Linked DNA regions of Homo sapiens. The protein of the gene in region 1 purifies or fractionates together with the protein of each later gene. This does not show direct contact. Each region holds a gene or a part of one and is shown on either strand. Other genes may lie near its edges.

Region 1 (3,653 bases):
ATATAGTTATCCCTAGGTATCCATGGGGAATTGATTCTCGGACCCACTTTGGATACCAAAATCTGCAAATGCTCCAGTCACTTATATAAAATGGCGTATTATTTGCATATAACCTATGTACATCCTTCCATACATTTTAAATCATCTCTAGATTCCTTATAATACCTAATACAATGTAAAAGTAAGGTGAATAGTTGTTAGACTGTATTTTTATTTGTATTATCTTTTATTGTTGTTTGGTATTTTTTATTTTTATTTTTTCAAATTTTTTTTATCCACACTTGGTTGAATCTGAGGATGGGAAACCTGCAAATACAGAAGGCTGACTGCATTGAACTAGCCTTGCATTCCTGGCATAAGCTCCACTTGGTTGTGTTATATTACTCTTTTTATGTATTGCTGAATTTGATCCTCTAATGTTTTACTGAGAATGTTTGTGTCTATGTTCATGAGGAATATTGGCCTGTAGTTTTCTTACACTATCTGGTTTTAGTATCAGGATAAAGCTTGCCCCATGTAGTAATGTCCCCTCATCTTCTCTTTCTGGGAGAGATTATATAGAATTGGTGTTATATCGTTTTTAAATGTTTAATCGAATTTTTCAATGAAATAATCTGTGCTTGGGCATGTCTTTCAAAGTGTTTAACAACAAATTCAATTTCTTTTTAATATTTAAAGGAATTTCAGGTTATATACTTCACCTTGGGTGAGTTTTGGTCATTTTTTTTTTTTGAAGAATTGTTACATTCATCTAAGTTGTTGAATCTAGGTGCATAGGATTGTTCAGCATATTTCCTTAATATCATTTCATATATCTGCTGTGTCTGTAGTGATATTTCATTCCTGATATTGGTCATGTGTATGTTCTCTCTTTTCTTTGTCAGTCTTGCTTGAGGTTATCAATTTTATTAATTATTTCAAAGAACCAGCTTTTGGTTTCATTGATTTCCCCACCCACCCCCCTTATTTTACCATTTTCCATCTCACTGGTTTCTGTTATTTTCATTTCCTTCCTTCTGTGTGCTTGCTTTATATTTGGTTAGCTTTTTTTTTTTTTTATTTCTTTTCATTCTTTTTTTTTTTTTTTTTTTCCTGAGACAGGGTTTTGCTCTGTCTCCCAGGCTGGAGTACAGTGTCATGATCATAGCTCAGGGCAGCCTCAAACTCCTGGAATCAAGCAATCTTCCCACCTCAGCCTCCTGAGTAGTTGAGACTATAGGTACCCCACCACACCTAGCCAGCTAATTTTTAAATTTTTAACAGAGGCAGGTCTCTCTATGTTACCCAGGCTGGTCTCAAATTCCTGGTCTCAGCAGTCCTCCTGACTCCGCCTCTCAAAGTGCTGGGATTACAGGTGTGAGTCACTGGGCCTGATACCTTTTCCTGATTTCTTCAGCTTAGAATATTGATTTGAGACCTTTCTCCTTTTCTAATATAAACATTTAAGCTATAAATTTTCTCCTAAACTCTGCTTTACCTGCATCCTACATATTGATGGTTTTATTTTCATTTTGTTGAGTTCAAAATATTTTCAGTCTTATTTTCCTTGAGACTTCCTCTCTGGCATTGAATATGTGGAAGTGCATTTCCAAGTGTTGGGAGATTTTCTGGTTCTCTTTCTGTTATTTGATTTCCAGTTTGATTGCATTACAGTCAGAGAACATAGTTTGTATTTTGCTGCTTTTATAGTTTGTTAAGGTTTGTTTCATGACTCAGGGTATGGTCGATCTTGTTTCATGTATACTTGAAAGGAATGTGTATTCTGCTATTGTTGGGTTGAGTATTTTAGATATAAATCAATTAGATAAAGTTTGGTTAATGTTAGTATTCAGTTCTATATTCTTGCTGATTTTCAGGCTGTTTTATGTGGAATGCTGAGGAGTGTTGAAGTCTCCAATTATAATGCATATTTGTCTATGTCTCCTTTCAGTTCTTTATCTGCAAATCATATAGCTACTATGACTTTCTTTTGATTAGTGTTTCTTTTTCCACCCTTTTACTTATTACCTACCTATAACATCTATTTACAGTGGGTTTCTTGTAAATAGCACGTAGTTAGTTGGTGGGTGGTTTTTTTTTTTAATTTCAACTTTAATTTTAGATTCAGGACACACATGCAGGTTTGTTACACGGGTATAGTACATGATGCTGAGGTTTGGGGTATGAATGATCCCATCAGGTGGGTTTTTAAAAACCCATTCTGACATACTCTGTGTTTTATTTGGTATGTTTAAGCCATTTAATTTACTGTTGTTATTGATAATGTTGATGTTCATAATGTTGGGTTGAAGTCTACCATTTTAGGATGTGTTTTCTGTTTGTTCTCGCTGATCTTTATCCTCTGTTTTCCCTTTCCTGCTTTTTTTTTGAGTATTTGAACATTTTTTAGTGTTCCATTTTAACTTATTTATTGTCTTTCTTACTGTATCTCTGTATTTTTTTTAATGGTTACTCTAAGAATTACAATATACTTAACAATCTACTTAGAGTTCCTTTTTTTTTTTTTTTTTTTTGAGACAGAGTCTTGCTCTGTCACCCAGGCTGGAGTGCAATGGCATGAGCTGGGCTCATTGCAAACTCTGCCTCCTGGGTTCAAGCGATTCTCCTACCTCAGCCTCCCAAGTAGCTGAAATTACAGGCACCCACCACCAGGCCCAGCCAATTTTTGTATTTTGGGTAGAGACCGGGTTTCACCATGTTGGCCAGTCTGGTCTGGAACTCCTGACCTCAGATGATCCACCCACCTTGGCCTCCCAAAATGCAGGGATTACAAGTGTGAGCCACCACGCCCGGCCTGAAATTGCTATTTTACCACATCTAATGGAATGTAAAAAGCTTACCGTCATGTAGGTTCCTCTGTTCTCTCCCATTTTTGTTACATTTATCTCATGTATTACATCTACATACATCTAATGCCCCATCAGACAAGGTTATAATTTTTGCATTTAATCATCAATCATATTTTAAAGAGCTCAAGGGAAGAACAGTCTATTGTATTTACTTAGGTCTTTACCAGTTCTGTTACTCTTCCTACATTCTTGAAGTTTCAAGTTTCAAGTTTCCCTCTGGTTTCATTTGAAGAATTTCCTTTAGCAATTCTTTTAGAGCAGGTTTGCTGGTGATGAATTCTAAGTGTCCTTCATCTGAGAATGTCTCGATTTAATCTTCTTTCCTGAAGGATATTTTCACTGCATATGGGATTCTGGGCTTTTTGTTATGGTTTTGTACTCCAAAAGAAAGCAGGAAAGAGAAAACAGAGGATAAAGATCAGCGAGAACAAACAGAAAACACATCCTAAAATGGTAGACCTCAACCCAACATTATGAACATCAACATTTTCCAGCAGTTTTTAAATTTTTTTCTTCTGGTCTCTAAGGTTTCTAATGAGAAACACACAGTTATTCAAGCTGTTGTTCCCTATATGTAGTGTACCATTTTTATCTGGTTCCATTCTACACCTTTTCTGTGTCATTAGCTTTTGGAAATGATGTTGTCTGGGTGTGGATTTCTTTGGGCTTACTTTGGAGTTCAGTGATCTTCTTTAATCTGTAGGTTTATGTTTTGGCAAGTTTGTGGAATATTCAATCATTCTTTCTTCAATTTTTTTTTTTTGCACTGCACCCTTTTTCCTCTAATTCTTTGACTGTGATGAT
Region 2 (3,653 bases), on another chromosome or scaffold:
TTTCTTTTTCTTTTTCTTTTTCTTTTTTTTAAGATGGAGTCTTGTTCTGTTGCCCAGGCTGGAGTGCAGTGGCACAATCTCGGCTCACTGCAACCTCTGCCTCCAGGGTTCACGCCATTCTCCTGCCTCAGCCTCCCGAGTAGCTGGGACTACAGGCACCCACCACCACGTCCAGCTAATTTTTTATATTTTTAGTAGAGACAGGGTTTCACCGTGTTAGCAAGGATGGTCTCGATCTCCTGACCTTGTGATCCGCCTGCCTCGGCCTCCCAAAGTGCTGGGATTACAGGCGTGAGCCACCGCGCCCAGCGTGTTTCAAATATAAAATGTGTTTTTTATTTTATTTTCTTGAGACAGAGTCTCGCTCTGTCCACCAGGCTGGAGTGCAGTGGCATGATCTCAGCTCACTGCAGCCTCTGCCTCCCCGGTTCAAGCGATTCTCCTGGCTTCAGCCTCCTGAGTAGCTCGGACTACAGGTGCGTGCCACCATGCCTGGCTAATTTTTGTATTTTTAGTAGAGATGGGGTTTCACCATGTTGGCCAGGATGGTCTTAATCTCTTGACCTCGTGATCCGCCCACCTCAGCCTCCCAAAGTGCTGGGATTACAGGTGTGAGCCACTGCACCCAGCCCATTTATTTTTTTGAAACAGAGTTTCACTCTTGTTGCCCAGGCTGGAATGCAATGGCGTGGTCTTGGCTCACTGCAGCCTCCGCTTCCCGTGTTCAAGTGATTCTCCTGTTTCAGCCTCCCAGGTAGCTGGGATTATAGGTGCCCGCCACCACACCCAGCTGATTTTTGTATTTTTATAGAGATGGGGTTTCATTATGTTGGCCAGGCTGGTCTCCAACTCCTGACCTCAGGTGATCCACCCGCCTCGGCCTCCCAAAGTGCTGGTATTACAGGCGTGAGCAGCCACGCCAGGCCCTCAAAGTATGTTTTAAAAACTGTAGATGAACTAAATTTTACTGCCCTGAAACAAGTAATTTGTTTTACTATTTGTTTACCATCCATATGCTAGGCACAAGGATAAAGCAGTGAGTGAGACTGGGAAGGAGACAGATACAGAAAGAAAAAATATTGGTGTCCACATAGGTGTGAAAACATGGGGATGTTCAGTGCAACTTAAGCATTCTGGCTTCACTGATGTAGGCAGTTGATGTTCTCACTAATACTCTTGTACAAACACAGTTGTAGTCCTCCCAGGCAGACATCTTCCTTAAGCCCCTTATACATAGAAACCACAGGACTATCAGATGAGTAATTTCTTTTTGCATATTCCCCAGTGTCAGATTTTTTTTTTTTTTTTTTTTTGAGACAGGGTCTGTCTCTGTCACCCAGGCTGGAGTGCAGTGGCACAATCTTGGCTCATTCCAGCCTCTGCCTCCTGGTTTCAAGCGATTCTTGTTCCTCAGCCTCCTGAGTAGCTGGGACCACAGGCGTGTGCCACCATGCTCAGCTAAGTTTTTTATTTTTACTAGAGACAGGGCTTCACCATGTTGACCAGGCTGGTCTCGAATTCCTGACCTCCAGTGATCTACCCGCCTCGGCCTCCCAAAGTGCTGGGATTACAGGCATGAGCCACCATGTCTGGCCCCCATTGTCAGATTTGAATTTTGATTGATTTAATTGCAGGCTTTGAGAACTGAAAAGGATCATTAGACAGCATCTTCTTTACCTTTCTTTAGTTAAATCTTATATATGCCATTTAAAATGTGTAGCTAAGGTCCAGTGCAGTGGTGCATGCCTGTAATCTCAGCACTTTGGGAGGCCGAGGAAAGTGGATCACTTGAGACCAGGAGTTCAAGACCAGCCTGGCCAACATGGCAAAACCCTGTCTCTACTAAAAATACAAAAATTAGCCAGGTGCAGTGGCGGACACCTGTATTCCCAGCTACTTGGGAGGCTGAGGCATGAGAATCGGTTGAGTGTGGGAGGCAGACTTTGCAGTAAGCCAAGATTGCACCACTGCACTCCAGCCTTGGCGACAGAGCAAGACTCTGTCTCAAAAGAAAGAAAAAAAGAAAGAAAATTTTTTTAAAAATGTGTAGCTAGGTTACCTATCAGAATAATATACTAGGGATCAGGAATCCTTGGTTATTTCTACTAACTAGTGAAAAAAAAAACAAACCTGGGCCAGGCCCTGTGGCTCACGCCTATAATCCCAGCACTTTGGGAGGCCGAGGCGGGTGGATCACTTGAAGTCAGGAGTTTGAGACCAGTCTGGCCAATGTGGTGAAACCCCGTCTCTACTGAAAATATGAAAATTAGCCAGGCGTGGTAGTGGGCACTTGTAGTCCCAGCTACTTGGGAGGCTGAGGCTGGAGAATCACTTGAACTGGGGAGGCAGAGGTTGCAATGAGCCGAGATGGTGCCACCACTGCACTCCAGCCTGGGTGACAGAGTAAGACTCTGTCTAAAAAAAAAAAAAAAAGGAAAGAAAGAAAGAAAAAACCTGGCTTTTCAGCACATCACTTTTCTGGGACTTAGTTCCTGCGTATGGAGAAAAACTCACAGTAGTATCTGGCATCTTAGATGGAAAAGTTATTTTTGTGGGATTGTCCTGTATTGAGCATTCCTGGCTAAATGAGTAGAGAATGAGTTCCCCACTCATTGTACTATTAAAACTACCCTTGCCCATTTCTTTTTTTCTTTTTCTTTTTCTTTTTTTTTTTTTGAGACAGAGTCTCGCTCTGTCGCCCAGGCTGGAGTGCAGTGGAGTGATCCTGGCTTGCTGCAGCCTCCACCTCCTGGGTTCTCCTGCCTCGGCCTCCTGAGTAGCTGGGATTACAGGCACATGCCACCAGGCCTAGCTAATTTTTGTATTTTTAGTGGAGACGGGGTTTCACCATGTTGGCCAGGCTGGTCTTGAACTCCTGATCTCAAGTGATCCACCCGTCTTGGCCTCCCAAAGTGCTGGGATTACAAGCGTGACCCACTGCGCCCGAACCCATTGCCTATTTCTTTTTTTTTTTTTGAGACGGAGTCTTGGCTCTGTCGCCAGGCTGGAGTGCAGTGGCGCGATCTTGGCTCACTGCAGCCTCCGCCTCCTGGGTTGAAGCAATTCTCCTGCCTCAGCCTCCCGAGTAGCTGAGACTACAGGTGCACGCCACCATGCCTGGCTAATTTTTGTGTTTTTAGTAGAGACGGGGTTTCACCATATTGGCCAGGATGGTCTCCATCTCTTGACCTTATGATCTGCCCACCTCGACCTCCCAAAGTGCTAGGATTATAGGCGTGAGCCACCGTGCCCGGCCGCCCCTTTCCCATTTCTGAAGAATGCAGAATAGCACTCCTGGTTGAGAACTACTGTCTTAATTTAATCTGATTCTAATAGTCTTTATCTTATTTTTGGATCCACTCTTCTCAGTTGTTAAAACACTGTCTTATTTGTGAGGGACTTTTACCTTTTTCAAATGCCATACATGTGTATGTATGCTCTTAGATAAGGAACTTGACTCAGCTACTATTATTTAAGAACCCACTATGCTCAAGAGATTGGATACAAATTATTCAGGATTACCAATTCTTGGTATTTGGAGTTGAAATCAGAATGTCACCGTATTAACCCAACATCGATCCCCAAACTGAGAACAAAAGGACAATTTAGAAAACCCAGGCCCACTTCAGTGCACTGCTCTGTCTGGAGAGCAT
Region 3 (3,166 bases), on another chromosome or scaffold:
GGCCCCAGACCATCTGAACCTCTGGAGAAGGCCCAAGACTGGAACCCACTCCAAGTGGTGGGATTAAAGATTAAACGCTAAAGAGTACAAATGACCAAAGCAGGTACCTGAGGTACTCTGGATTTGGGATAGAAGAGAGGGGAGAAGGGAAGACGATGAAATAACAGGAAGAGAAAGAAGGACCTGAAGCCTCTGAATCCATAAAAAGGAAGGAAATCAAACTATAATTGACATCTAAGTGCCACGGCACTTATAGTTTGCAAAGCATTTCTACCTACGTGCTTAATCCTAAAAAGAACCCACCAAGGTGGGGATTACTCCAACTTTATAGATGAGGAGACAAAGCCTAGAGAAGTCAGACTTCACAAGACCGCAAATGCAGTAATGGGGCAGTGTAGGGAGGTGCTCAAATGTAGGCCCAAGAGAGAACACAGCAAAAAAGGAGTGCCCAGAGGAGGGGTTTAGGGAGAACACAGCAAGAAGAGACGTGCCCTGGGGTTTCACTGCAATGAGGAGATAAATGCATCAATTCACAAGGCAGAATTCTGAGGAATGCACACACAAATCTAAAGCATATTTATACATCACTTTAATTCTAATTGAGGATGCACGTCACAGTCATGTCTGATTGAAACTCTTAGATTACAGTCTTCAATCCCAACAAAAATCCCATTTCATCCCTCTATCACTCACAGCCAAATGAGGAAGTATATACTGCCCACTTTGCCTCTCCTTCACCAGGTGGGTCAGTATGAGCCTTTTGGCCCACACACTGCTGAGAAGGAAGCTCAAAAGATTAACCCCTTAAAAACAAAACGGGAGCGCGGCCTGATGACAAACTGAAATTCAATCCATTTATTTACACGTACATTGTACATAAGTTTACAAATTCTCACTTCTGCCACTCAGCTAGAACTTTTCGGGGAAAGCCTCCATCTCTTCCTTGATCCTGTTTTCTACAAGTAATGCGAAGTTACTGTCTGTGTTCTGAAGGTTATAGCTGACAAACACCTGTTTGTTGGTCTTCCTGGCTAAAAAGAGAAAACACATTGATACAGCCACTCCTGAAATACTGCAGGCCCCGTGTTCCTCACAGCCACGTGCAGCTGGGAAATGCTCAGAAAGAGGATGGGGTTGTAGGGAGAAAAGAAAGCTCTAATCTCCATGCCTCTCTTCAGACAGGTGCTGCAAATGCAGACGAGTCACTCAGGCCTCTCCCAGTCTCTCCACCAGACCCAGGGTTCTGAAGGGCAGGCCCCACCTCAGCAGCCTCCCTGGAACTTGTTCGAGAGGCAGCTGCTGGGCCCCACCCAGCCCTCCTGACCCAGAAAGCCAGGATTTGGGGCCAGCTGTCTGCTGGAACAGATCCTGCAGGTGCCCCGCACTGCTTAAGAACCTCTGCCCTACACAGAGGGGTTTCTGGTGTTTTGATTTAAAAAAAAAAAAAAAAATTTAAACACAAAAAATGGCCGGGAGCGGTGGCTCACGCCCATAATCCCAGCACTTTGGGAGGCCGAGACGGGTGGATCATAAGGTCAGGAGATCGAGACCATCCTGGCTAACACGTTGAAACCCCGTCTCTACTAAAAATACAAAAAATTAGCCGGGCATGGTGGCGGGCGCCTGTAGTCCCAGCTACTCGGGAGGCTGAGGCAGGAGAATGGCGTGAACCCGGGAGGCGGAGCTTGCAGTGAGCCAAGATCGCGCCACTGCACTCCAGCCTGGGCAATAGAGCAAGACTCCGTCTCAAAAAAAAATAAGTATTTAAAATAAAATATTAAAGTTCTCCTTCAGCACCACCCCACCCCAACCAGTTCCACTTCCCTCCCTCCTACGTTTCCATGCATTTGCATATATGTGTATACACACAAATATATTTGTGTGTGTGTGCACAGATAGGCATATGGACACACACGTAATTTTCTACTGAATGTAAGTTTTAGTCCCCTTCTACAGAATCAATAGAAAATGGCTGAGGTGCACATTGGGCCAACTGCAAAAATCAAGCAGAGTCATACACCTGGAATCTGAAAGCCAATATCCTGAAAATACGTGGGCAAAAAGGCTAAAGCAGTTGGATGTTGCCTGCCCCACTGCGCGGCCTCCTCCTTTAGCCTCACCCATACGCAGGGCCAGTGCAGAACTACTCACCCCTGGAGAGGCACTGACCCACCCCCACCTCAACATATGGCAAGCATGTACTTAGCCTCATCACCAAAAGGCAAAAGGGTGGTGCGGTGAGGCTGAGGGCACCAGGCCACCTGCACCATTACTAAAGGCCGATTTAGAACACACGTCATGGGATCTCATCTGGGCAGCAGTTCTGTCCTTTCAGTTGCTGCCATCTGAGCTATGGTCCCACCAAGAACCCTGAGAGGCAGTGTGGCTCAGGGGCGCAGGTGCAGGCGCAGGCCCAGGCCCCACCGTGGCCTGGAAACCTCTCCCAGCTTTGTTTGGAAATTGAGGAGAGGGAGAGCCCAGGACCCCAAAAGCCTGTTTTTCCGCTGTACAAGGCTGCGTGATTTTTAGGGCTGGAAAGGTCTTGGGTATTAACTCACTGACTGTCCTTACAAAGCAGCCAACACACCTATGAAAAAGCAAGGCGGCGGCAAGCACAGCCTCTGCCTGAGGACAGCTGCTGAATTGTATGACATGTGTTTACGTCTCGGTAAAGCTGTTTTTTTATTAAAAAAAAAAAAAAAGGAATGTGTCCGGACAAAGGCAGCTGTTCGGTTATTCCAAGAGCTGGTGTTTAAAGAACAGCTTACAGTACTTAGCACAGAGCCTCCCACCAGTGTGCTGGGTGCAGTGTGCCCCCGAGGCGGAGAGTTGTGCCCAGTTATCTGCTCAGCCCTGCGGGGAGTGAGGAAGCCTCTTAGGCTTCCCCCACCATTAGGGACCAACCTCATCCTTTCCTAGCTGTGTTAGGCAGGCTGGGACCACTCATGTAGAGGGTGATCTAAAGGCAGGCAGTGTGGTAGGAAGCTGGGGCTCACCAAGGCTGCCTAGGAGGAGCCTGTAAGTCACACCCTGCCCTATATCCCAGGGGCAGGAACATCCCCCTTTACCCTAAGGGGGCCCCCCTGGTATTCCAACTGTTCTAACTGCAGAGACAGGATTTCTGAGGAACAACGCTGTGTCTGGAGGCACTGAGCCCCTCAGACCC

The links.
Region 2: the proteins of CCDC69 (region 1) and CLTCL1 purify together in Homo sapiens (affinity purification with mass spectrometry; 2 studies listed by BioGRID and IntAct, with this or other methods). This does not show direct contact.
Region 3: the proteins of CCDC69 (region 1) and PSMG4 purify together in Homo sapiens (affinity purification with mass spectrometry; 2 studies listed by BioGRID and IntAct, with this or other methods). This does not show direct contact.

Annotation. Positions count from the first base shown.
Region 1 is NC_000005.10:151,189,526-151,193,178, reverse strand, and holds part of CCDC69 (coiled-coil domain-containing protein 69), read left to right. Parts: intron 1-3,653. UniProt on the Homo sapiens protein: May act as a scaffold to regulate the recruitment and assembly of spindle midzone components. Required for the localization of AURKB and PLK1 to the spindle midzone.
Region 2 is NC_000022.11:19,281,652-19,285,304, reverse strand, and holds part of CLTCL1 (clathrin heavy chain 2), read left to right. Parts: intron 1-3,653. UniProt on the Homo sapiens protein: Clathrin is the major protein of the polyhedral coat of coated pits and vesicles. Two different adapter protein complexes link the clathrin lattice either to the plasma membrane or to the trans-Golgi network.
Region 3 is NC_000006.12:3,265,456-3,268,621, reverse strand, and holds the end of PSMG4 (proteasome assembly chaperone 4), read right to left. Parts: exon of another isoform or gene 1,032-3,166; coding exon 910-1,031; 3' UTR 573-909; downstream 1-572. UniProt on the Homo sapiens protein: Chaperone protein which promotes assembly of the 20S proteasome.